Homo sapiens: one gene and its partners. The protein of the gene in region 4 purifies or fractionates together with the protein of the main gene of each other region. This does not show direct contact. Each region holds a gene or a part of one and is shown on either strand. Other genes may lie near its edges. The genes, in order: PYM1, XRN2, WBP11, UPF3B, CACNA1C, PAIP1 and SART1.

Region 1 (3,500 bases), on a different chromosome or scaffold from region 4:
GGTTGTAGTGAGCCAAGATCACACCACTGAACTCCAGCCTGGGCAACAAAGCAAGACTCCATCACAAAAAACAAACAAACAAACAAAAAAAAAACTTAACTATTGGGTACTAAGCTCACTATCTGGGTGATGGGATCACTCATACCCCAAACCTCAGCATCACATAATTATACCCATGTAACAAACCTACACATTTTCTTTTTTTTTTTTTTCTTTTTTTTGAGACGGAGTCTCGCTCTGTCGCCCAGGCTAGAGTGCAGTGGCGTGATCTCGGCTCACTGCAAGCTCCGCCTCCCGGGTTCACGCCATTCTCCTGCCTCAGTCTCCCGAGTAGCTGGGACTACAGGTGCCCGCCACCATGCCCGGCTAAGTTTCTTTTGTATTTTTAGTAGAGATGGGGTTTCACCGTGTTAACCAGGATGGTCTCAATCTCCTGACCTCATGATCCGCCCGCTTCGGCCTCCCAAAGTGCTGGGATTACAGGCGTGAGCCACTGCGCCCAACCACAAACCTGCACATTTTCTAAATCTAAAATAAAAATGGAAATCAACAAATAGGCCAGGCATGGTGGCTCACGTCTGTAATCCCAGCACACTAGGAGGCTGACGTAGGAGGATCACTTGAGCCCAGGAGTTCAAGACCATCCTGGGTAAGATGGTAAGACCTCCATCTCTATAAAAAATTTAAAAATTAGGCTGGACATGGTGGCTTACACCTGTAATCCCAGCACTGGGAGGCCAAGGCGGGTGGATCACCTGAGGTCAGGAGTTTGAGGCCAGCCTGGCCAACACGGTGAAACCCCGTCTCTACTAAAAATACAAAAATTAGCTGGGCGTGGTGGCACGTGCCTGTAGTCCCAGCTACTTGGGAGGCTGAGACAGGAGAATCGCTTGAACCTGAGAGGCAGAGGTCGCACTGAGCCGAGATTGCACCACTGCACTCCAGCCTGGGCGACAGAGCAAGCGTCCATCTCAAAAAAACAAAAATAAAAAAGGTAGTCCTATCATTTAATCACATTTCCCAAAGCTTTTGTTATGTAAAATACTACTCCCATAAGATATTAAACAGGGGTTATCCCTAAAAATTGTTAAATAAGTTTGGGAAATTCTGGGTTAAACACCAAAAAAGATTTTGCGTTTGTTTTTTTTAACAGCAAGGCTTAAATGAGTTACTATGTTCTTATTCAGGTACATATGCAAGATGGGAATATGGTTTACAGTGTTTCTCAAAATTTGTGCACAGAAACATTATTTGCATTTTATTTTATTTATCTTTGAGATGAGGTCACTGTCACCCAGGCTGGAGTGCAATAGCTGGACCTTGACTCACTGCAGTCTCCACCTCCCAGGCTCAAGCAATTCCTCCCACCTCAGCCTCCCAAGTAGTTGGGACTACAGGAGTGTGTGTGTCACCACACCCAGTTAATTTTTTGTATTTTTAGTAGAGACGAGGTTTTGCCATGTTGCCCAGGCTGGTCTCGAATTCCTGGGCTCAAGCAATCCACCCGCCTCAGCCTCCCAAAGTGTTGAGGTTACAGGCGTGAGCCACCACTCCCGGCCTCTATTTTAGTTATTTATTTTGTGTCACATCTCAGAAGATTACTAGGTGTTTCAAGGATTCATATTTTAGAAAATAACAGCCAATCTTAACAGTATAATTCAAAATATGTCATTTTACCTTAATGTTATATATGCATATGTGCTTAGAAAAACTAGGCTGGGGGCCAGGCATGGTGGCTCACGTCTATAATCCCAGCACTTTGGGAGGCCAAGGCAGGCAGATCACCTGAGGTCAGGAGTTCGAGACCAGCCTGGCCAACACGGTGAAACCCCATCTCTAACTAAAAATACAAAAAAATAGCTGGGCATAGTGGTGCGTGCCTGTAATCTCATCTATTTGGGAGGCTGAGGCAGAATAGCTTGAGCCCAGTTGGCAGAGCAGAGATCGCGTCACTGCACTCCAGTCTGGGTGACTGGAGACAGAGCAAGACTCCGTCTCAAAAAAAAAAGAAAAAGAAAAAAGAAAAACTAGGCTGGGTGCAGTGGCTCATGCCTGTAATCCCACCACTTTGGAAGGCCATGGTGGGAGCACTGCTTGTGAAAATGAGTTTGAGAACAGCCTGGGCAACATAGCTCTATAAAAAAATTCAAAAATTAGCCAGCCATGGTGGCGCATGCCTGTAGTACTAGTACCAGCTACTCAGGAGGAGGAGGCAGGAGAATTGCTTGACCCCAACAGTTAAGACTACAGCAAGCTATGACTGTGCCACTGTACACTAACCTGGGCAACAGAGCAAGACCTTGTCTCTTTAAAAAAAAAAAAGGAAAAGAAAAACTAGTTGCTCATGCCTATAATCCCAACACTTCAGGAGGCCAAGGTGAGAGGATCACTTGAACCCAGGAGTTGGAGACCTGCCTGGGAAACATAGCAAGACCTCATCTTACAGATAATTTAAAAAATCAGGCCGAGCACGGTGGCTCATGCCTGTAATTCTAGCATTCTGGGAGGCCAAGGTGGGCGATCCTTTGAGGCCAGGAGTTCAAGACCAGCCTAGACAACATGGTAAAACACCATCTCTACTAAAAATACAAAAATTACCTGGGAGTGGGGGTGCATGCCTGTAATTCCAGCTACTCGGGAGGCTGAGGCAGGAGAATCACTTGAGCCCAGGAGGTGGAGATTGTAGTGAGCAGAGATCGCACCACTGCACTCCAGCCTGGTGACAAAGCGAGACTCCGTCTCAAAAAAAAAAAAAGAAAAAAAAAGAAAAAGAAAATAACCCTAAATGCCGAAAAAGATGCATGCACAAAAACATTCTAGTGTTCTTATAATAAAAATTCTGAAAACAATCTAAAAGTCCAATAACAGAAGAAAGTAAGATAGGGTGCATGCCCAAACTATAAAACACTCTGCCAGTATTTTAAAAGATGTTTACAGAGTTTTTAATAGCAAGGAAAAACATTTACCTCATAAGGCTAAATGAAAAGGCAAGATATAAAAATGTATATACCATCTGGTTCTGCTATGTTTAAAACAGTTTAGAAAGATATATGCCATATATAACAGCAGACTCTGGGTTGATGAATTAATATTGAACAAAAATTACATAACTAAATTTGCACTTAAGAAGCAGTAATCTGGTAGCAGTGTATCTGTAGAAATGAAACAAGAGAGGGACTGGAAATACGATGACCAGTTTAGGAGGTCACAGTAATATTTGCAGAACAACAGAAACTAGAATTTTAGCAGGCACTTGGAATGGCCCAAGTACTATGCCTGGTACTTGGCCATATATAGTAATTTCTTCTAACCCATACAATGACCCTTACATAATAGTAATAATTATAGAACAATGTGTTGGACACTTTTTATGTGCCAAACATGTAAATTACTTTATTTAAATTTTAATACGCATAATAATCCTGTGTTGCAGGAGTTATTCCAATTTCATTGATGAGAAAACTAAGACTTAGATTCCCAAGGCTATATAGCTAACAAGT
Region 2 (3,498 bases), on a different chromosome or scaffold from region 4:
TGTATGTGTGTCTAAATATGTTTTGGCAATCAAATGAAAATGCATATGTAAGTGCTGTATGTGAACTCCAAACACACATTTAAGCAATTTATAGTGTACTTAGTAGCAAGGAAAAACATGAGTACAAATTGCAATCTAATGACATACAAAAATATGCTAAGGAGCATAGACTATTTGGCCATTAATTAAAATTGTCAACTTGAAGATTTAAAACAAGTCCTTAAAACTGGAGAAGTCTACATTAAATTTGTAAAAATGTAATTTATCTCACAAAGATTTCTGAGTTAGCCAGATCAGTCACTGACATAATACAACAAAGTTAAAGCTTTTGTTATGTCTTGCTGACCCTATCTTTTAAAATCTACTTCTTCATTGACTTCTTTGTCCTTTGGTTTGGACATCTGATTACAGAAATAGTTTTCTGCAAAAGTTAATTTTAAAAAACCACGCTTGGTCAAGATTTTCAAAGTTGAAATACTGCAAAATAACAACACAAAACAGAGTTTTAAAAGTTTAACTTTATTTTTTTTTACTAAAGTTCAGAAATTTCTGTAAGACAAGTACATTAATGAAATGTTTCCAAAGAAATACTGAACAATATATACTCTAGTTTGCTGAGGTTCCAGCTCGAGTTCAAACCTAATTCTTGTGCAATAAAAATCAGCATGGATCTTAGATGATCTAGAATACACTGTGTTTTGAAATCCACAGCTGGTTTCATTTTTAACCATTATGAAAAACCAGTACTCCTATTCCATCAAATGTGTTTTATAAGCAATAATAAATTCAGATCCACTGTATTATGCAACATACATCTTTGGAAAGCAACATAAACAGTGAGATCAGATCAGTAGAAATATACACAGTTAAAAGAAATACACAAAGTACTGTAGTTTTATTAAAAACTACTACTTGAGAAAGAAATCTTTCCACAAATAGCATAAAACTGTAGAATGATGAAAGGATTTGGGAAAGCTTTACAAAAGCTTAATTCCAATTGTATCTTCCTGAGGGTGGTGGCAAAGGGTATTTCCTTCCTTCTCTGGGATATCCCTGAAAATAAACAAAAGAAAGAGTTTATTTTCTGGACCGATACTCCTGCAAGTCAGTTAACTTTAAACCTCTATGGAAAAACACATCATAAGGAAACTGAGTATGTGTTAAAGGTACAGCACATGGAAAGGCCCCATAAAAGGTGCTTTGATCCAGAGCTTTAATACAGACTTGTTGCAAAGTTGGAGGCTAGCACAAATGCTATTACTGAAAAATAAAACAAAAAACCTTAACAATCACAAATGCACACAAATAACTAAAGTGTTCTGTGTAAACAACATGTACAGACAGTGGTTCTCAATTTTCTCACTGTCCTAGCAGTAGTAATTCAAGTCACTTTGTGGTAAGATACCCACATCAATTTAGACTTATTACACAAGGAAAGTAACTTTGCTTTAACCAAGGCAAGAGCTTGCTAAGTCAGTTAAGGCCAAATGAGCAATTGATTTTAGGGATTTTTTATTTAGCAACAAATAGTAGGGCTTTAAATGACATATTAAGGTTATTACACAATCCATTAGCCGTGACCTTTATAACATATCCTAGTATGTTTGCAAATAACATTTCTGTATAACAAAAGATAAACCTGACACCTCTTCATTATAAGTCCTTTCCTAGGCCTCTAGGGTTTTGAAATGGAACCCCCTCCCACCTCATTTTGCCACCCAGAGAGCACTTCAGTACTTTAAACATGAACATGTGCAGACTCAAGGCCAGAATGCAGGCTAAGGCCTTGTTTGGTCATATAAAACTTTACTAAAAATACAATGAAGTAATGATTCTATGTTTTTAACAACAAACTTCTGCAATTTAATAGTGCTTCAACAATTGTGATTTAATAAAAAGTATCTCCCTGGCAAAGGGACTGAGAAAGAAGAAATGTTATTTTCAAAAAGTCCTAAAAGAATAATAAATTTACCAATTGGTTTATATCTTCTAAGTAAATAAGAATTTTACCTCCTGTAACAGCACAGAGTTCCTTTAAAAGGAAGATCTCCAAAGGAGAGAGGAAAATGGATGAACTGGGGTCAGCAGTCTAGGCAGCCAGCTACCAGTTCTCCTGCTGAACCGTGTGGGGTTTTCAGGGTTTCAGTTCCTGACTTGGAAAATGAGGTGACTAGACTACACATTCTCCAAGGTTTCTTCCAGTTACAAATAGTCCTCACTTCAAAAATGCTCATCACTGAAACGGCCTAGTGCCATCTAACCATAGTAACATAAAGAGCCTTAGTTCACTGACACGATTTTTAGAGGTCCTGGGCTGAAAGAATTCAAAGCAAAATTCGATAAACTGATTCAAATAAACTGTAACAAAATCTCAGAAGAAATTATTTGCAATTAAGGTGATTATCTTCTTGTAAGGTGGAGATACTTGTAAGAATACATCAAAAAACATACAAAATATGTTCCTTAGCTGTGAGAAGAGAGGTCTTACTAATTAATATGTGAAGCACTGCAAAAGGCCTGGAGGCAACACCAGGTAAGCAATTTAAAAACCACTTCACATCACTGCAGGTGCCAAACTCCATACACATTACTCTGAATCACAGCATTCTAATCTTGTTCTCTAGTAAGGATTCCATTAAGAGCATGTAAATACTGGCCAGGGTGTCAAATTGCTGGAGGAAATTATGTCAAATAGACCTCAGTCTTAAATGCTGCTAAAACTGGATGCTGTAAAGAGAAGGACATGAAGCTTACATATACTAAATTTGTCTAGGAATTATGATAGTCATTCAGTGATACAGCTGCTTACATTGAGAAGAAAAATATGTGGAAGATTATCAAGCAGAAATTTCTTTTATGAGGAGGGATATCAGATGAATCAAGGCAGGAGACTTCTAAAATGACAACATTGTAAAATGACTTCTAAAAGACAACAGCTGAAAAAGCAGACTTACTTTCCAGCTTCCAGAAAATCATCACCCATTAAGAGGGATCTAGGTTCTATTGAAGAACAATATCCTTAAAGGAAAAACAATGTGTTTTGGTGACTGACTATACTTGGACTAATTATCACTGACTGCTATGATTTAAAGGGCTTTTGGGTTAGAAATTCTTTGGCATCTTCAAGGTATATAACCTATTTAGTGAAGCAGGTACTCAACCCATATACATTTTTAATGACAGACCCAAGTTCAGCCAAGCTACTCTAAGCTACTCTATCAGTGTCTTCTCCAGAAATGTTGGTAAGAAAATACGGAGTCCTGTGAGGCTTGTTGAAATATAAAGTGAGCAGTATACTTTTCATCCCACAACCATTTACCTGTCTCCCTCCACGATCATCTCGTCTGGGTGGATACCCACCAGGCCCAGCTAGCATCTGGTACTGGTTTGGCTGGAAGGCTGCATTCTGGGTTTGCAGCATCCGGTTCCATGGGAGCAGAGGTTCAGCCCCAACGCCTCTGTAGGAAAGTACCAGTTTTACATCAGAAGCCACACCTA
Region 3 (3,500 bases), on a different chromosome or scaffold from region 4:
ACCTTTTACCCCAAAGTGAACTTTATTACATAGACATTTTTATTACATACAGTTTAATGCTTTTCCTCATAAACATCCACTGAGTACTTACTGTGTCAAAAACTTTCAAAATTTTAATATATAAGATGAACACAGCTATGATCCCGACTTCCAAAGATTTCAGAGTACTCTCACAGATTCATTAATAAATTAGGACCTTCAGCTTGTTTTCTCTTTATTGATCAATACCATGAATCCTTCATCTGCACATACCTGACTTCTTTTCTTCATTGTTGTCTCTCTCACCATTATCACGGTGCACAAATTCATCCCCGTCACTTTCTCCATCTGATTTGTCGGTGTCACTGTCATCAGTACTGTCATCATGCTTATCTTGATCCATGTCCTCAGGATAGCCATCATCTTCACTGGTGCTAGAAACATCATCATCATGACCTCGCTGGGCTGAAAAGTGGGAAGGGAACATGGAGAAGTAGTATGATTGGACCCTCCACTACATGGTACCCAGAAATACAGAAAATTATGCTATTCAACTCAGACTGTAACAACTTAATTCTTACCAAAAAAAAAAAAAAAAAATTCTTGTATATATAGCTACTCATACAGTCTAACAAAATTTTCCTCTGCCAATAATTTTAAACACTTCTTTTTGGTAATTTAAGATTTTTTTAAAAAGAGTTCTAATTTGAAAACCCATTTCCTCCTTTAGCAACAATCATGTTTGTATACACATACACAGTCAGTGAATGTATACAATGACGCTCTAGTCTGATGACAATAAAGCTAAAAGGGAACCAGATATACAAGTCTTAAAGGATTAGCAGCAAGAGTGACATCTCCAGGAAAAGCCTAATTTAAAACACGATAAACATTTCTATACTTATGTATGATGCTTTTACTTGAGAAGATCCTATGATTTATCCAACTGTATGTATATTAGTTATGTACATGATACCCTCTCATTTACTTTCTAAGTTCTGAGGGTGGTGAACAATATGTTAAACAGGGCCAACATAAAAAATGATAGTTATAAAAGCAAAAGAACAGTCACTTCTCACCAAGTTCAGGACTATATAACATGTCTTCATCTCGCCTACGAGGGGGAAGATCTAGGGCAAAACCCACTTTACGGCCATACATCTGCACGACTTGAGGAGGAGGTGGACCAGGGGGAGGGCCAGGAGGTTTTCTGCCAGGGGGCAAACGTGGAACACCATGTCCAAGAAGAGGAAGGATAGAAACTGCCCGAGTTGGAGGTCTGTTAAAAAAAAAAACAAAAACAAAAAAACCCCCACAGTAATCACTTAACAGTAATGAGATATTTATTTTCTCTTCTAAACAATTTTCAAGGGATTTCTTATTTTACATTTAATCAAATGTCACACTGTTTACATCCATATTGTCTTTTATTTCCCTCTGCATTAATTTTGGCACTGGACAGTCAACTTGTGCCTTTACTAAATGCTCTCTGATTGTGACACTGCTTCCTTACCCATAGGCTGAGGTTTTCTTTAGGATAGAGGGTGGCTGGGCACCAGGAAGTGGAATGTCCTGGATCAAAATGTTGGAAGGAGCATGTGGCATATCTGGCAAAGGAATACTCTCCACTTCCACATGCTGAGCATTCTGAAACAGAGAACCATTCAGTAGTATGATAAAAAAGTCATCTACTAACTAAACACTAAAAATGACAAGTCAGCTGTTTCGTAACTTGGACATGCTTTCCAACTAACATAAATATCACCAAAAACCCCCAGAAAAATAACCTTACGTCAATACTTCCACATTGTCAAAGAACTGAAAGAAATCTTTACTTCTAAAAACGTCAGAACCCAGCTGTTTTTTTTCTCCTCTTATCAGGTAATTCTTTTTGGATGATTCGAAACAGCTGTTGTCTAGAGAAAGCCAACTGTTACAAGTATCTAGCACCAGAACTACCCTATTTAACATGTGATAGAAAAATACATGTCAGGCTGGGCGTGGTAGCTCACACCTGTAATCCGAGCATTTTGGGAGGCTGACGCAGGTCGATCACAAGCTCAGGAGTTTGAGACCAGCCTGGCCAATATGGTGAAACTCCATCTCTAATAAAACTACAAAAATTAGCCAGTTGTGGTGGCGTGTGCCTGTAGTCCCAGCTACTCAGGAGGCTGAGGGAGGAGAATTGCTTGAACCTGGGAGGCAGAGGTTGCAGTGAGCCAAGATGGTGCCACTGCACTCCAGCTTGGGCAACAGAGTGAGACTCGGTCTCAAAAACAAAAAATAAACAAAAAAAAGAAAAATAATATATGTCAACTAACAAATAGTATATATCCAGTGGTGGAGGTTGGGCTCATTAGCTTGCCTATGTTGAATTTCTGTTGTGTATTAGCTTAGTTTGACTAAGCAAGGTAACCTGTGCCTTCATCTGTAAAATGGGAGACATATTACCTCCTTTACAGAAATTATAGCATTTGATTTTTTCCCATCTTTATTTTGAGGTAAAATTTACGAAATTTACAAATTCAGTAAGTTTTGACAAATGCATATACCTCATACTCCTTCCCAATCCATCTCTAATATCATCCCCCAAGGCAACCACGGCTACATTTTTTTTTCCTGCACAGATTATCTGTGACTATTCTAGAATTTCATAAAAATGAAATCATAACAATGAGATAAACTTAGCATGTTTTTGAGATTTACTCACAATTTTTCTTTTTTTATTCCATGCTGTTTTGAGTATTAGATTATTCCTTTTATTGCTGAATAGTATTCTATTGTATAAATATGCTACAGTTTAATTATCCATTATCCTATTAGTGAACACTTAGGCTGATCCAAGTTTTTGAATTAATTTCTTCTGTTTAAATAAAGAGGATTAGATTTGCAGGTTCACACAGTAGGTATATGTTTAGTTTTAGAAGAAACTGCTATAAGGAAGAGGTTCAACATGACATTCTCCCATTAACTTTTTAAATCTAAGTATAGGCTGAGCATCCCTAATCTGAATATCTAAAATGCTCCAAAATCCTAAACTTTTTGACTCCCATATGATGCCATGGTGGAAAAATCCACACCTGACCTAATGTGATGGGTCGTAGTTTTGTTTCATGCACAAAATTTATAAAATTATCTTCAGGCTATGTGTATATGAAACATAAATTTCATGCTTAGACTAGGGTTCCATCCCCAAAATATATGCAAATATACACAAAAACAAAACAAAATATAAAAAAAACCCAACAACCCTAAATCCAAAACACTTCTGGTCCCAAGCACTTTGCATAAGGGATACTCAATCTGTATAATATTTTAGTTTATCTCTCAAAAAAAAAACCTTGATTACCTTGACAGCATCAAAATATTGGCTAAGTTGAGCCCTCTTCTGTTCATATTCTACTTCTAGCTTTCTCAATTCTTTGTAAATATCTGGATTCTCTTTTTCATAGAGTCGTAGAATACGTTCAAAGGTTTCACGCAGCTTTTTACGCTTGTCTTTCAGTACTTTCTCATTTAAT
Region 4 (3,500 bases):
TTGTATTTATATTACATTTGTGTGAAACTAAATAGGTCAAAGAATTTTTCCCACTTTAATGGATTCTCATAATGCTGTGAGGCAGGTATTACCATCTGCAATTTACAGTAACAGTCTCAGAGAAACTAGTAACTTCCCTGAAGTCACACAGCTAGCAACTGATGGAGGTAGGAGACTTAGGTACTGTGATGAAAAGACTGTTGCCCTGATTCTTTTTGCCCACTTACCTATTAATTCTCTATTTTTTGCTTCTATTTCCTCTAGCAGTGTCTCTGGAGTAGATGTCATTTTCTCATTATCTGTGGCATAACTTTCCAAAAACTTTCTATATTCTGGATCTAAATAATCATTTGAGGAAACAGAAAATATAATAGACTTTAAACAAAAAAAGAAGACATTATCTACAATACTGATTTATCAAAGAAGATAATTTTTTACTTCGTGGAAGATTAAAAAAAACCAAACCATACCCACAAGGTAGACTATTTAGAGCTTAATTGGTCACTTGCTCTCAGGACTCCTATCACTGATACTCACTATAGGAATCTGGTATAACATGGGGTCAGGAAAAATGAGACGCCATGCATTATAACAGAACCACTAGGGGTATTACATAGTTTGCTTTTAAAAGTCACTGTCCTACTAAACTAAGTTAGGTGTTCCAAAAAGATAAATTAGAGAGAAGTCCTAGATGTGGCACTTGAGGTGATGGGAATTCCTGGAGTTCTCTCCTAGACCTCTAACATCAGAAAGGGTGACACATCTAAGCCATTATATTGCTTGTTTCTATGTGTCACTTGATCAAGTCTTCCAGATCTAAATCTGTAATAAAACCAGTATCACAGCTATGTGTTATTGAGTCCTTACCGTGTTTTCTTTATAAAATACCTGTAATAGTAACAAATGATGGAAATTAAACTAGATGATTCTAAAGTAACAATCTGATATAAAATATGGTCCTAGTCCTTATCCAACATAAAGAGTTGTGTAACAGCTATCTAACATAACATTACAGAGGTCTCAAAATCTGGAGCCAGTGTACCTTAAATGGCAATTATTTTGGTTTTTCAGTTCTTGTATTTCTTTCTTTCTTTCTTTTTTTTTGAGACGGAGTTTTGCTTTTGTTGTCCAGGCTGGAGTGCAATGGTGCGGTCTCAGCTCACTGCAACCTCCGCCTCCCGGGTTCAAGTGATTCTTCTGCCTCAGCTTCCCAAGCAGCTGGGATTACAGGTGCCCGCCACCATGCCTAGCTAATTTTTGTGTTTTTAGTAGAGATGGGGTGTCACCATGTTGGCCAGGCTGGTCTCGAACTCCTGACCTCAGCAACTCTGCCCGCCTTGGCCTCCCAAAGTGCTGGGATTATAGGAGTGAGCCACCGCGCCTGGCCTCAGTTCTTCTATTCCTGTTCAACCTAATACTATGTGTGTAGCTAATTGTATATCCAAAGACCAGAAAATAGGAGTGACAACTTCAGCTACTTTATACAAAGTTACCTGGGTATGGAAATTTTCCCATGACAGTTCAAACCTTCTTCTTTATAAATATAATGGAAACCAAAAGTCAAATAAATAATCATAAAAATGGTGAGGCCTCAAGAAGCACCTGTTAAACTTTGAAACCTGATTTTTTTCCACTATTTTCTTTTTCTTTTTTTTTTGAGATGGAGTTTCGCTCTTGTTGCCCAGGCTGGAGTGCAATGGTGTGATCTCAGCTCACTGCAACCTCCGCCTCCTGGGTTCAAGAGATTCTCCTGCCTCAGCCTCCCGAATAGCTGGGATTACAGGCATGCACCACCATACCCGGCTAATTTTATATTTTTAGTAGAGACAGGGTTTCTCCATGTTGGTCAGGCTGGTATCAAACTCCTGACCTCAGATGATCCGCCCGCCTTGGCCTCCCAAAGTACTGGGATTATAGGCGTGAGCCACCACGCCTGGCCTTTCCACTATCTTCTAATCAATAAACCTATGGTGATTTGTTACTCAATAGTCAACATTATATTGTTCAATGGTTGAAGAATGAAATGCCCTAGCCAAAGAGAGCAGAGATTCTGTGCAAGAAACTCTCTCTAGTCTAACAATTAAGCAAAGCTTCCATCGGCAAATAACATTTCTCACTTACTTTATTTTGTATATTTTCTAATTTAAAATTTTGGGGTCGAATTAACTCTCACAAAGATATTATTTTTAAAAACCCCACAGCAATAGCATTATATAATTAGAGCTATACTGTACCATCATCGATAGTCCCGACTTTGGTATCTCTTTTCTTAGTCTTCTTTTTTGCAGCTTTTTGAAAAGGTGCAAATTCTACTATAGCGGGATATTCCTGACCTGTTTAGAAAAAAAATACCACACTTGCTATAACAAAGAAAATGTCAAAAGTGGATATAAGGGAATCAACCCATTGCTTTCTATGACTCTTTTGATGGCAGTCATCTGAAGAGGGTCTCCCAAAGGCATAAAGCACACTGGCACAACCATAATCAACATACTACAAAAGGAGCCACAAATTCACACTGATAACATAGTGAAACAACACGGCATGAAAGTAAAATATTCATATAAATTCAACTTATAAAATGTGATATTTTAATGTGAAAAAGACCCTACAAACTATTTTTCATTTTAAAATGTTAGAAATCTCCAAAATAGGCAAATCTATAGAGACAGAACGTAGAGTAGTAGCTGCCTGGAGTTTGGGGTAGAAGTGGTGAGAAGAATGAGGAGTGACAACTAATGGGTGGGGTTTCTCTTAGGGGTGATGAACATGTTCTAAATTTAGATTGTGGTGATAGGCTCATAAGCCTATGAATATACTAAAATTCACTGAACTGTATACTTTAAAAGGGTGACTATTTCAGGCATGTGAATTATATCTCAATAAAGCTGTTATTTTTTAAAAGTGTAACTATTTGAGGTGATGTGTTATGTGAGGTGATGAATGTGTTAACTTGATTGTATATATTTCATAATGTATATATGTATACATTATGTATACATTTCATAATGTATATATGTATACAATATGTATACATTTCATAATGTATACATTTCATAATGTATACATATATAAAATTATCACGTTGGGCTGGGCACCGTGGCTTATGCCTATAATCCCAGCATTTTGGGAGGCCGAGATGAGAGGATCACCTGAGGTCAGAAGTTTGAGACCTGCCTGGCCAACATGGTGAAACACTGTCTCTACTAAAAATACAAAAATTAGCTGGGCGTGGTGGCACGTGCCTGCAATCCCAGCTACTCTGGAGGCTGAGGCATGAGAATCACTTGAACCCAGGAGGCAGAGATTGCAGTGAGCCGAGATCATGCCACTGCACTCCAGCCTGGGCGACAGAGTAAGACTCCGTCTCAAAAAAATAAATACATAAAAATAAAAATAAATAAAAATACAAAAATTAGCCAGGCGTGATAGTGCACGCCTGTAATCCCAGCTACTTGGGAGACTGAGGCAGGAGAATCACTTGAACCTGGGAGGCGGAG
Region 5 (3,500 bases), on a different chromosome or scaffold from region 4:
GAATGGACACAAACAGATATCCTACTGAATGTGTTCTTGGCCATTGCTGTGGACAACCTGGCTGATGCTGAGAGCCTCACATCTGCCCAAAAGGAGGAGGAAGAGGAGAAGGAGAGAAAGAAGCTGGCCAGGTAACCCTCTAAGCTTGCCCAGGCCTGGGGCTCCAGGGCTCCCATTGTGGAATGTCTTCCCACTGGTGGCAGAGAGAGGCTTGACTGCTAGCCTCTGTTGGCTCTCCCTCCTAGGAGGACTCTGGGTTTGGGGCTTCCTAAGTTGGGCCTCTCTCCTAATTCCTAAGCATCACTCTGGTAGGGACCATCATGAATTATAATAATCTCTGCAATGGTGTCATATTCTCCACCTGCTGGGATTATCTTTTGAGAAGCTGTGATAGGTGGCAGGAGTGTAGGGTGGGGAGAGAGAAAGGTAACCACTCAGTTGGGAAACGCAGCTCCAGCTTACAGAGGGAGTCCTCCTCACTACTTTATAATTCATCTCCAGTGTTAGGAAGGCAAGACGGGGCCCTATGTTGTATCCTATCATTATCTAGACGGGACAGTTCCAGGCCACACAGCTGCCGGGCACTGAGCAGAGCTCCTCCAGGAGCCAATCCTAGATGAGATCCACCATCCTTTTCTGCTTTGGCGACCCAGGCATCTCTGGAGCTGCAAGAGGCCAATTGCGTGTCAGGCAGAGCAGGTGTAGCTCAGCCCCATAGCACTTGTGACTGAGCTGCACACGAGAAGCGTCCTGGAGAAAGGAAGATGGACTCAGACCCAGGGGATCTGTCCCCTCTGGCCCCAACAGGCCACAGGGCGGTTCCCTCCTACACTGTTCCCTATCACTCCAGTAAACAGCCATTTATTTTTTTCTGCTGCTGACTGGCCAGGACTGCCAGCCCAGAGAAGAAACAAGAGTTGGTGGAGAAGCCGGCAGTGGGGGAATCCAAGGAGGAGAAGATTGAGCTGAAATCCATCACGGCTGACGGAGAGTCTCCACCCGCCACCAAGGTGAGGAGCTGTCTCCTTCCTGGAGCTGTGAGGCCGGTGCTGGGGAGGGAGGGCCACAGCCTTCCCAGGCCAGAACCCTGTGGAGAAGAGGAGAGAAAGAAAGACACCCAGTGGAAAGAAAGCCAGTGGGGATGAACAGGAGAGCTGGGAGGGGGAAGATAAGGCAGATTGGCTGGATCCCAGCCATCTGCTGATGTCTTGAAGGAGATATGCAAAGTGACAAGTACCTATTTTTGAGCTAAGTCACTGACTAAAATGCAACTTCAAGGCTACTGCAAGCCTCTTAACTTGGGGACGTATCTAACTATTCTTCCCCCTTCTCCCCTGTGACTGTCTAGATCAACATGGATGACCTCCAGCCCAATGAAAATGAGGATAAGAGCCCCTACCCCAACCCAGAAACTACAGGTACCAGTCCCACTGCCTAACCTGGGATTGGGAGATTGGGGGCAGAGATCTAAATTCTAAAGCCACGTGGGAGTGGCCATATATTAGGGACCATGGTTCCAGTGTCCCTCTGTAAGTACCTTCCACTGCTGAGTGTCTTCTATCTCTATATTTAAGCATCATCAGTCAGCATCTGGGAGGCAGGTTTGTTTCTGGTTTCCTCATAATGAGATCACATTTGAGCAGTGCTTTTGTGTCCTTTCCAAGTTGGATTCAGTGTACATTTAAATTTTTGTTACATTACATGTTGTAAAATCATCATTAATTTATATAATGTATTAGTATGGCATATGTTGCAACATTATGCTCACTTAATATTAATAGTCAATCCCAAGTCTGCCTTGCCCCTACTCAGGAGGCAGTGCCGAGTGCAGGGACAGCTGCCACCACAGATGTCCCACTTGTTGCTTTAGGCAATGATTTCAGGTCTCATTATAAAAGGCGCGCTTACTGACTCCATCTTTTTATGCTTCTATCTGATACCTAAATTGGCAGGCAGTCTGCTTCTCAAGAGCTTTAATGTCAGAGATCAGAGGTCCTCCCTCCAGGCTTCACTTCCCTGCTCCCTGAAATCCCATACCCTGTGCAAGGCCTGGGCTTGCCTTCCTCTGACCTAGGATTGCAGATATTATCGCCAGTTTCAAGCTTGAAGTCAATAACATGCTATCAAGGGACTGTTGATTTTACTGACATTTCCTTGTTCCTGTAGGTTAGGCTATATTTGGGTTGTTCACCAAGTTAGGTGGCTGAGAACCTCCTACATTTATGAGCAAAGCTCGGTTTCCCTTTTTGCTTTCCCTCCGCTGGTTCTCTGCTTAGAACACTCACAGGCATCCTTGGGAACCAGACTCCCTGTGGTCACACCATCCTCACTCCCCTCCTCCTGCAAGGGAATAGGATGTGGTTTCCTGGAGCTTGGATAGAAAGAACAGGAAGGGCGTTTTCATATGCCCGGCATTAAGGCTTTGAAGTTCTTAAAACCCCTTCTAGGGTGAAACCGTTAGGGAATTTCAACGACGTACTAGAATTATTGAACAAATGCAATGGGAGGATCTTGCCTTGATCCTGAAGCAACAAATACACTTTAAAATGACGTTTTAGAGGGAAATGGGGGAAATTGAATATGGACTGGGAACTAAATGATTGAAAGTAGTTTTGTTAATCTTGTTGGTATAATATTTTGTAGTTCTGTTTTTAAACTGCTGCAGTGTTTATGGCCAGAGTCTAAATGTTTACGAGTTGCTTTGCTTTTAAAATATTCCAACAAAAAAAAAATGGGGACAGAGAAGATAAATGGAACAAGATTAGCAAAATGTCCAAAGTTGTTGAAGCTGGTTATATATATGAGGTTTAGTATGTGAGACTGTACTCTTGTGTAAATCTTTAAGGTTTAAAATGAAAGACAGTAATAAAACAAATTCCTTAGAGCCCTGAGAAGAGCCCTCCCATGGGGCCAGCCTCCAGGATGGGCCTCCCTGCACACACAACAGGGCAGATCTAGCATGAGGGTCTTTTCACACAGGCACCCAGCTGCAGCCAGGCCTGTACGGCAGATACACCTCTTGCATCTTCAACAAAAATCTCAAATTCTATTAATCTATACTCTTGGCTTTTCTTTTCTTTGTTGCTCTAATGAAATCAAAGAGAAGAATGTTAATTTTAAAAAAAAAGGGCTAATGAGGATTTTGTCACCAGGTCGGCCATCCTAGAAATGCCTCTCACGTAGCTACCCAGTGGCTCTGAGGACTGGGGGATGCTTACGCTTTCCAGCTGAAAAGCTCTTCCCACCCTCTGCTGAGGCCTCAGGATTCTTGAGATTTTTGAGTGTACGGCCCGCTCCCCGTCATTTCTGTTGGTTACATGTGTCTCTTTACTTTCGTGTTGAGACCTCTGGTCCATACCCTGAGGCTGCCCTGACTGCCCCACCACGTACACCAGCCACCACTCCGGCCTCTGAAGCCAGCCCCAAGCATGCCCATTTGTGCACTATCCCTGGTTTCCAGGTCCTCATCCAGGAGGTCCAAAGGGCAGCATGCTCTTAAA
Region 6 (3,500 bases), on a different chromosome or scaffold from region 4:
CCCTTCTTATCTCTGTATATGTGCTCTTATTAAATAAGATCTTACTCTGTTCTGGCTTTTTGTTTTTGTTTTTGCCACCTAATGAAACATCTTAGATTTTTCCATGGCACAGAGATTTACCTCTTTTATTGAATAACTTCCTAGTATTCTGTCATATGCATATGCATTGTTTATCCATTCCGTAACATCTATCAATGTTTACTAATGAATATTTGGATTATCTTCAGTTTAGCCATGGCAGCATTGCTTGTAATCTTTCCTCTTGTCATATATATGTGCAGATACTTTTGTAGGTTAAATTCTTAAACACGGATTTGGTGGGTGGACGAGCATATGTATTTTACGACAAGTAATGGCTAATTTGCCTTCCAAATGCTGAACCAGAGTATAGCCCCATCAGCAGAATGAGTACATCTCTTCCTACATCCTTATAGTGATGGATATAATCAATCTTGGTTTTTGTTTTGTCAGATGATTTTAAGCATTTCTTCATGTTTATTAGCCATTTGTTTATTATTTCCTATAAATTACCTGTTTAAATCCTTAACTGATTTATTTCCTGATGAAATGCATGTTTGTGTTTTTTTTTTTTATTCAAAGCTTCTATACTTGTTGCTTGCTGTATATTTCAAAAAAAGTGACATGTTCATTAAAATCTAATAGCCTATCTTAGTCATACAGGGAATATAACAGTCGTTGACATAAAACCCATGATTAAAGTTCTGCTATTGTTTTTTTTGTTTTAGTTTCTCTCAGTCAAGAGAAATATAGAGGGCGTAGAGATCACTGAATATTAGATGGTAGACAGAATAATTAGGAATATTAAACTTGCTAAATTCATCTTGTTTAGAGAATGCTTGAACTGTTACTGGTATCTTTTTAGAATTTCTATAATACACTATTGAATTTCTTATTTTACTGACACCTGCTTTTTTAGTTGACAGGATCAGTTTTGGAAGATGCTTGGAAGGAAAAAGGAAAGATGGATATGGAAGAAATTATTCAGAGAATTGAAAACGTTGTCCTAGATGCAAACTGCAGTAGGTAGGAAAAGAAGTAATGTAAATAGCCAGTGCATCTCAATTTCTTGCTTTTTCTTTGGAGATTGTTTTTTAATTTGCTATACTTCAGCAGGGTAAGTTGATGGCTAACGGATATACAAAAATGCTTTTCTTTAAAGGAATAATATTTTACCTATAGTTTCTGCTCACTAGACATTTTTGTGATAGACGTGTCAGATATTTTTGCTCAATTACATTTAGAAATTGAAAAAGCTAATTTTCTTAAGATATGAATTAAATGAAAAACAAAATCCAAATATTAACTGTCCAACAAATAAAAGTACTACTGTAAGTATAGTAGGACACATAAAAATGTTTGAAGGATAGCCACTGCCTTTAAGGTCCATATAGTCATAGTTACGTGGAACATAATTCAAGGCTATTTTTTTTTTAAATGAATTTATGTCATATAGGAAACGTCTAGAAAGTCAAGGCATCAGATGTACCTGTTAAATTAAGGAAATAAAGTTTTGGGAATCTGAGATATTTTAGGGTCTGACAGCCCTTATGGTGGATACACTAACTCATTTTCAACTTTGTCTACAGAGATGTAAAACAGATGCTCTTGAAGCTTGTAGAACTCCGGTCAAGTAACTGGGGCAGAGTCCATGCAACTTCAACATATAGAGAAGCAACACCAGAAAATGATCCTAACTACTTTATGGTATGCCAGTGTTTATATTTTAAGTTTTACTTATTGCTTGAATTCCGTTTTGGAAATTAGAAGAGCTACATAAAGCTGTTCTCAGAATTCAGTGCCTAATAACTGTCTTCACTGGCTTTGAGTGACATGGCAGCCATCAGACTGGGTAAAAAAGAAAAGAGACCTGGAATTCTCCAGTGAAAGGGTGGACTAGAGAAAGATATATCCAATGGCAAGAGAGATTGACAAGGCTTGGACTTAAGTGAGCACAGGGATGCCAGGAAGCAGCTTTTCCAGAGAATTTATAACCAAGGACCTGCATCTCAGACTTTTACTTTGCATGTTGTAGTAACGAAAAATAAAATAAAATTGGTTGGCTGGGCGTAGTGGCTCACACCTGTAATCCCAGCGCTTTGGGAGGCCAAGGTGGGCAGATCACCTGAGGTCAGGAGTTCAAGACCAGCCTGACCAACGTGGAGAAACCCCGTCTCTACTAAAACTACAAAGTCAGCTGGGCGTGGCAGTACTTGCCTGTAATCCCAGCTACTCGGGAGGCTGAGGCAGGAGAATTGCTTGAAGCCTGGAGGCAGAGGTTGTGGTGAGCTGAAATCACGCCATTGCACTCCAGCCCAGGCAACAAGAGCACAACTCTGTCTCAGGGAAAAAAAAAAAATGGCTACTAGGCCAGTGATGCCCTGAAGCTCCTGACATGAACAAACATAAAGCAGCTGTGGAGAAATGTTCCTCCAGCCCTGGTCCTGGAAATTCTTAAAAGAAATGGTGGGGTTGGAAACCACAGCTAAAAATGCACTGACACTAAATGACAATGCACAACAGAACAGTTCACTGAAAGACAATAGACAGCACCGTTAGAACCACAAGAACTTGAGATAATGGCATGGAAATCTGAAAACCATAGACTTTCTCAGTGAAGTGAAAATGGCTACCAGGAAGTTAGGTTCCTTTGCTTGTTCTTGCATTATTAGGTGCAGACGGGTGACATCAGCCATGCTTCATTATTGTACTTACAAAAATCAATTCTGAAATGATTACATATTTTTATCACTTTGATTCATCCTAGAATGAACCAACATTTTATACATCTGATGGTGTTCCTTTCACTGCAGCTGATCCAGGTATGTTGTCTCACAGTCATTCCCTCCTCCCAGTTGTTTGGTAAAGTAGTAAATTTACAGAAAACCACATCCTCACCAGCACAAGATTGTAACTTTTTGATGTCTTCACATCATTCTAAAATACCAGTGTAATGGTTTGTCTAATATAGAATGCTCTTCATAGTGACCACTTGAAACATTTCAAATGAAAGTATGATTCCACATATAATGTCTTGTCACTTAACAACAGAGGATGGGAAGAATTCTCAATTAAATGCAACTATTTTAATTTTATATTTCCTCTAACTTTTTTATAATCTTAAATTTTCAGGTGATTAGAATGGAGGGGAAAGACGATTCTAGTTCACTGCATAGTCAGCAACATATATTAATATGGGTTAATACTTTACACGAAGAATTACACATTTCATTCATACTTGGTGTGTGACAGTTAATTAAAATCCAAATCTCTGCACATTTCCTCTTCCAGAAGAGGACCATTTATAGAAAGATTGCCTTAATTGTATTAGATGGAACTGTAGAGTGAGGAAGAGAAATTTTTCCCTTTGGTACAAACTGCAACCAGCTTATGGTTGGAATTTTTCCATTTGTTTCCTCTGGATTCCAAGCATTGACTGTCCTGTGTCTCTAGCACAGAGAAGTTTTTTTAGGGCAAGGAAG
Region 7 (3,500 bases), on a different chromosome or scaffold from region 4:
GGGCTCCGCCTGCTCTCTGAGTTGGAGCTGTGGCCGTCGCATACTCACTCTGGCTGTGAGTTGTTAGATGGACTGGAAGATGTGCACACTTGCTGCAGACTGCGCTGTGCGGGGGTGGGTTTCTTGTTTTTCTTTAAAGCACGATTTGAGGGGCTTTGGAAGCCACAGAGGGTCCTGTTGTGCTGCATGGGTTGGCCAGGAGTGTGGGGACGAAGTGGGAGCAGGGAGGTGAAGGATTGTTCCTTCCTGTCCTGACCCCTTCTGGCCCCCTGAGCTGGAAGGGGGCAGGGTGAGTGGCTCCCTCCTCTCCCCACCAGCCATGGGCGGGCATAGCCTCACGTCTGGGCCCCCCTTCCAGAGGCGGGCACCAAGGAGGAGCCCGTGACAGCTGATGTCATCAACCCTATGGCCTTGCGACAGCGAGAGGAGCTGCGGGAGAAGCTGGCGGCTGCCAAGGAGAAGCGCCTGCTGAACCAAAAGCTGGGGTGAGGGGTCCTGGCCAGGGCAGGCAAGGGAAGGGCTGGGGAGGCCACCATCCTTGGCTGCCTCTTGAGTGGGGTGGGGAGCAGGAGCTGGGCTCCTTGAGCATCACTTTTTCCCCTCTTCAGGAAGATAAAGACCCTAGGAGAGGATGACCCCTGGCTGGACGACACTGCAGCCTGGATCGAGAGGAGCCGGCAGCTGCAGAAGGAGAAGGACCTGGCAGAGAAGAGGGTGAGCACCTGGGCAGCATGGGGTGGTCGCCTAGTGCTTCTGGTGGCCTGACGGCACTGAGGCGGGGGCCAACCCCAGAGAGGTGAGACGGGGCTTGGAGAAGGGAAGGGCCGTGGTCGGTAGCATCTACTTTGGATTCTCAGCAGCTTTCCTGCAAGGCCTGCCCTTTTTGCACTCCGCTTGGTAGAGCCCTGAGTGTTTTCTGGTGATGCTGAGTGGCCTGAAGTCCTAGGTCACCCCTCCCTGTCCCGTAGGCCAAGTTACTGGAGGAGATGGACCAAGAGTTTGGTGTCAGCACTCTGGTGGAGGAGGAGTTCGGGCAGAGGCGGCAGGTGAGGCTGCAGCAGGGGTGGTACAGGGGACACTGGTGGCCTTGCTACCGGAATCCCGAGGTTGGGTGCGTGGAGGGAGGTTCCTGACTCGCCGATTCTTCCCTTAGGACCTGTACAGTGCCCGGGACCTGCAGGGCCTCACCGTGGAGCATGCCATTGATTCCTTCCGAGAAGGGGAGACAATGATTCTTACCCTCAAGGACAAAGGTAATGCGAGCTGGGTGCCCTGGGTGGGGGCACAGCCTCTGCTGAGTTGCGGACAAGTGTGAATGGCCACTGCTCTGTGCTGCCCCCAGGCGTGCTGCAGGAGGAGGAGGACGTGCTGGTGAACGTGAACCTGGTGGATAAGGAGCGGGCAGAGAAAAATGTGGAGCTGCGGAAGAAGAAGCCTGACTACCTGCCCTATGCCGAGGACGAGAGCGTGGACGACCTGGCGCAGGCACGGCCTGGGCAGGCTGGGTGGCGGGGGCTGAGGTGGAGAATGTCGGGAATGGGGGCTCTGAGGAGGTGGTGGCTCAGTGGCTTTTCAGGAGCCAGCCTGGGTCCCAACCTGTACCTCTTGCCTTGCAGCAAAAACCTCGCTCTATCCTGTCCAAGTATGACGAAGAGCTTGAAGGGGAGCGGCCACATTCCTTCCGCTTGGAGCAGGGCGGCACGGCTGATGGCCTGCGGGAGCGGGAGCTGGAGGAGATCCGGGCCAAGCTGCGGCTGCAGGCTCAGTCCCTGAGCACAGTGGGGCCCCGGCTGGCCTCCGAATACCTCACGCCTGAGGAGATGGTGAGCCCTCCCGTGCCTTATACTCGGGGTCAAGATTCTCCCTCCCTCTGGGGCTCCTGCCCTGCCCGCAGGCACTGAGAAGACAGGGCGAGTATTTGTGTTCACAAAGCGCTTGGCCTCGCGGGTGAGCACTAAATGGCAACCGGGGGAGGCACCAGGTGTGGATGGGTCAGGGCTGCTGAGCCAGATGGGCCCCAGTCTGTTTCGGCTCTGCCATGCTGCCAGCTCGTGCCTTGGATAAACCATTTAACTGTGAGCCTGGGGCACCCCATCTGGAATGGCAGTGACAGGAGCCGCCTCCTGAGGTTGCTGTGAGGATGAGTGACAGCGTGGGTGAGGGGTGACTGGAGAGGTGTGCGTGGATTCTGTCCACAGGGTGACTGTGTGAACGTGAGGTAGACAGCTGGCGCGGTAGGCGTCTTCCTCAGTGGGTAAGAGCAGGACTCTGGAGCCAGACTGCCCAGCTCTCCCACCTAGGAGCTGGGCAACCTTGGGGAAGGTACTTAACCTCCCTGTGCCCCAGTTTCCCTAGCTCACCAGTGGAATTGAGATAGTAACCACCCCACATGTTGCTCATGTGTGGGAAGCGCTCAGGACGCTGGCTAGCACAGAGGAACACCAAAGAAGTGTTCACCCTCGAGGGCTTGTGGCGACCTGCCTTTCTGTGGCCCCCGCTCCATGTCTCGCCCCTCTTCCCTTAAGGTGACCTTTAAAAAGACCAAGCGGAGGGTGAAGAAAATCCGCAAGAAGGAGAAGGAGGTAGTAGTGCGGGCAGATGACTTGCTGCCTCTCGGGGACCAGACTCAGGATGGGGACTTTGGTTCCAGGTGGGCTTGGACACGGTGGTGGGGCGAGATGGCTGGGCTGGGGTGGCCTGGGGACCGGTGCTCACCAGAGAGGCCTCCTTCCCTCAGACTGCGGGGACGGGGTCGCCGCCGAGTGTCCGAAGTGGAGGAGGAGAAGGAGCCTGTGCCTCAGCCCCTGCCGTCGGACGACACCCGAGTGGAGAACATGGACATCAGTGATGAGGGTGAGGGCCCGGCCAGGGGGTGGGAGGGGCAGGGACAGGAGCCGCGGGTTGGAGGAGATGGTCTGAGCAGGCATCCCCTGTGTTTCCCCCAGAGGAAGGTGGAGCTCCACCGCCGGGGTCCCCGCAGGTGCTGGAGGAGGACGAGGCGGAGCTGGAGCTGCAGAAGCAGCTGGAGAAGGGACGCCGGCTGCGACAGTTACAGCAGCTACAGCAGCTGCGAGACAGTGGCGAGAAGGTGAGGCTGGGCATGGGCAGGGTGACTGCGTCAGCAGTCACCTGTCCTCACGAGCACCTGTGTCATAGGCGACAGCCACATTCCTGTCTGAAGCCTCTTTTCCATTTGTTTTTTGTTTTCTGGGTTTGTTTTTTTTTTTTTTTTTTGAGACAGAGTTTCGCTCTTTCGCCCAGGCTGGAATGCAGTGGCGCAGCCTCAGCTCACTGCAACCTCCGCCTCCCAGGCTCAAGTGATTCTTATTCCTCAGCCTCCTGAGTAGCTGGGATTACAGGCGCACGCCACCAGACCCGGCTAATTTTTATATTTTTAGTAGAGACGGGGTTTCACTATGTTGGCCAGGCTGGTCTCCAACTCCTGACCTCATGATCTGCCTGCCTCTGCCTCCGAAAATGCTAAAATTACAGGTGTGTGC

The links.
Region 1: the proteins of UPF3B (region 4) and PYM1 fractionate together in Homo sapiens (co-fractionation; 2 studies listed by BioGRID). This does not show direct contact.
Region 2: the proteins of UPF3B (region 4) and XRN2 fractionate together in Homo sapiens (co-fractionation; one large-scale study listed by BioGRID). This does not show direct contact.
Region 3: the proteins of UPF3B (region 4) and WBP11 fractionate together in Homo sapiens (co-fractionation; one large-scale study listed by BioGRID). This does not show direct contact.
Region 5: the proteins of UPF3B (region 4) and CACNA1C purify together in Homo sapiens (co-immunoprecipitation; one large-scale study listed by IntAct). This does not show direct contact.
Region 6: the proteins of UPF3B (region 4) and PAIP1 purify together in Homo sapiens (co-immunoprecipitation; one large-scale study listed by IntAct). This does not show direct contact.
Region 7: the proteins of UPF3B (region 4) and SART1 fractionate together in Homo sapiens (co-fractionation; one large-scale study listed by BioGRID). This does not show direct contact.

What each region holds. Positions count from the first base shown.
Region 1 is NC_000012.12:55,917,895-55,921,394, forward strand, and holds part of PYM1 (partner of Y14 and mago), read right to left. Parts: intron 1-3,500. UniProt on the Homo sapiens protein: Key regulator of the exon junction complex (EJC), a multiprotein complex that associates immediately upstream of the exon-exon junction on mRNAs and serves as a positional landmark for the intron exon structure of genes and directs post-transcriptional processes in the cytoplasm such as mRNA export, nonsense-mediated mRNA decay (NMD) or translation.
Region 2 is NC_000020.11:21,386,828-21,390,325, reverse strand, and holds the end of XRN2 (5'-3' exoribonuclease 2), read right to left. Parts: intron 3,459-3,498; coding exon 3,320-3,458; intron 1,054-3,319; coding exon 988-1,053; 3' UTR 501-987; downstream 1-500. UniProt on the Homo sapiens protein: Possesses 5'->3' exoribonuclease activity. May promote the termination of transcription by RNA polymerase II.
Region 3 is NC_000012.12:14,793,479-14,796,978, forward strand, and holds part of WBP11 (WW domain-binding protein 11), read right to left. Parts: coding exon 3,329-3,500; intron 1,627-3,328; coding exon 1,493-1,626; intron 1,259-1,492; coding exon 1,059-1,258; intron 445-1,058; coding exon 253-444; intron 1-252. UniProt on the Homo sapiens protein: Activates pre-mRNA splicing. May inhibit PP1 phosphatase activity.
Region 4 is NC_000023.11:119,842,964-119,846,463, forward strand, and holds part of UPF3B (regulator of nonsense transcripts 3B), read right to left. Parts: intron 2,334-3,500; coding exon 2,235-2,333; intron 339-2,234; coding exon 228-338; intron 1-227. UniProt on the Homo sapiens protein: Involved in nonsense-mediated decay (NMD) of mRNAs containing premature stop codons by associating with the nuclear exon junction complex (EJC) and serving as link between the EJC core and NMD machinery.
Region 5 is NC_000012.12:2,584,487-2,587,986, forward strand, and holds part of CACNA1C (voltage-dependent L-type calcium channel subunit alpha-1C), read left to right. Parts: intron 1-16; coding exon 17-131; intron 132-889; coding exon 890-1,010; intron 1,011-1,348; coding exon 1,349-1,418; intron 1,419-3,500. UniProt on the Homo sapiens protein: Pore-forming, alpha-1C subunit of the voltage-gated calcium channel that gives rise to L-type calcium currents. Mediates influx of calcium ions into the cytoplasm, and thereby triggers calcium release from the sarcoplasm.
Region 6 is NC_000005.10:43,533,078-43,536,577, reverse strand, and holds part of PAIP1 (polyadenylate-binding protein-interacting protein 1), read left to right. Parts: intron 1-937; coding exon 938-1,044; intron 1,045-1,607; coding exon 1,608-1,725; intron 1,726-2,785; coding exon 2,786-2,840; intron 2,841-3,500. UniProt on the Homo sapiens protein: Acts as a coactivator in the regulation of translation initiation of poly(A)-containing mRNAs. Its stimulatory activity on translation is mediated via its action on PABPC1. Competes with PAIP2 for binding to PABPC1.
Region 7 is NC_000011.10:65,964,734-65,968,233, forward strand, and holds part of SART1 (U4/U6.U5 tri-snRNP-associated protein 1), read left to right. Parts: intron 1-358; coding exon 359-485; intron 486-608; coding exon 609-714; intron 715-968; coding exon 969-1,046; intron 1,047-1,153; coding exon 1,154-1,253; intron 1,254-1,342; coding exon 1,343-1,485; intron 1,486-1,616; coding exon 1,617-1,823; intron 1,824-2,525; coding exon 2,526-2,650; intron 2,651-2,737; coding exon 2,738-2,853; intron 2,854-2,945; coding exon 2,946-3,088; intron 3,089-3,500. UniProt on the Homo sapiens protein: Plays a role in mRNA splicing as a component of the U4/U6-U5 tri-snRNP, one of the building blocks of the spliceosome. May also bind to DNA.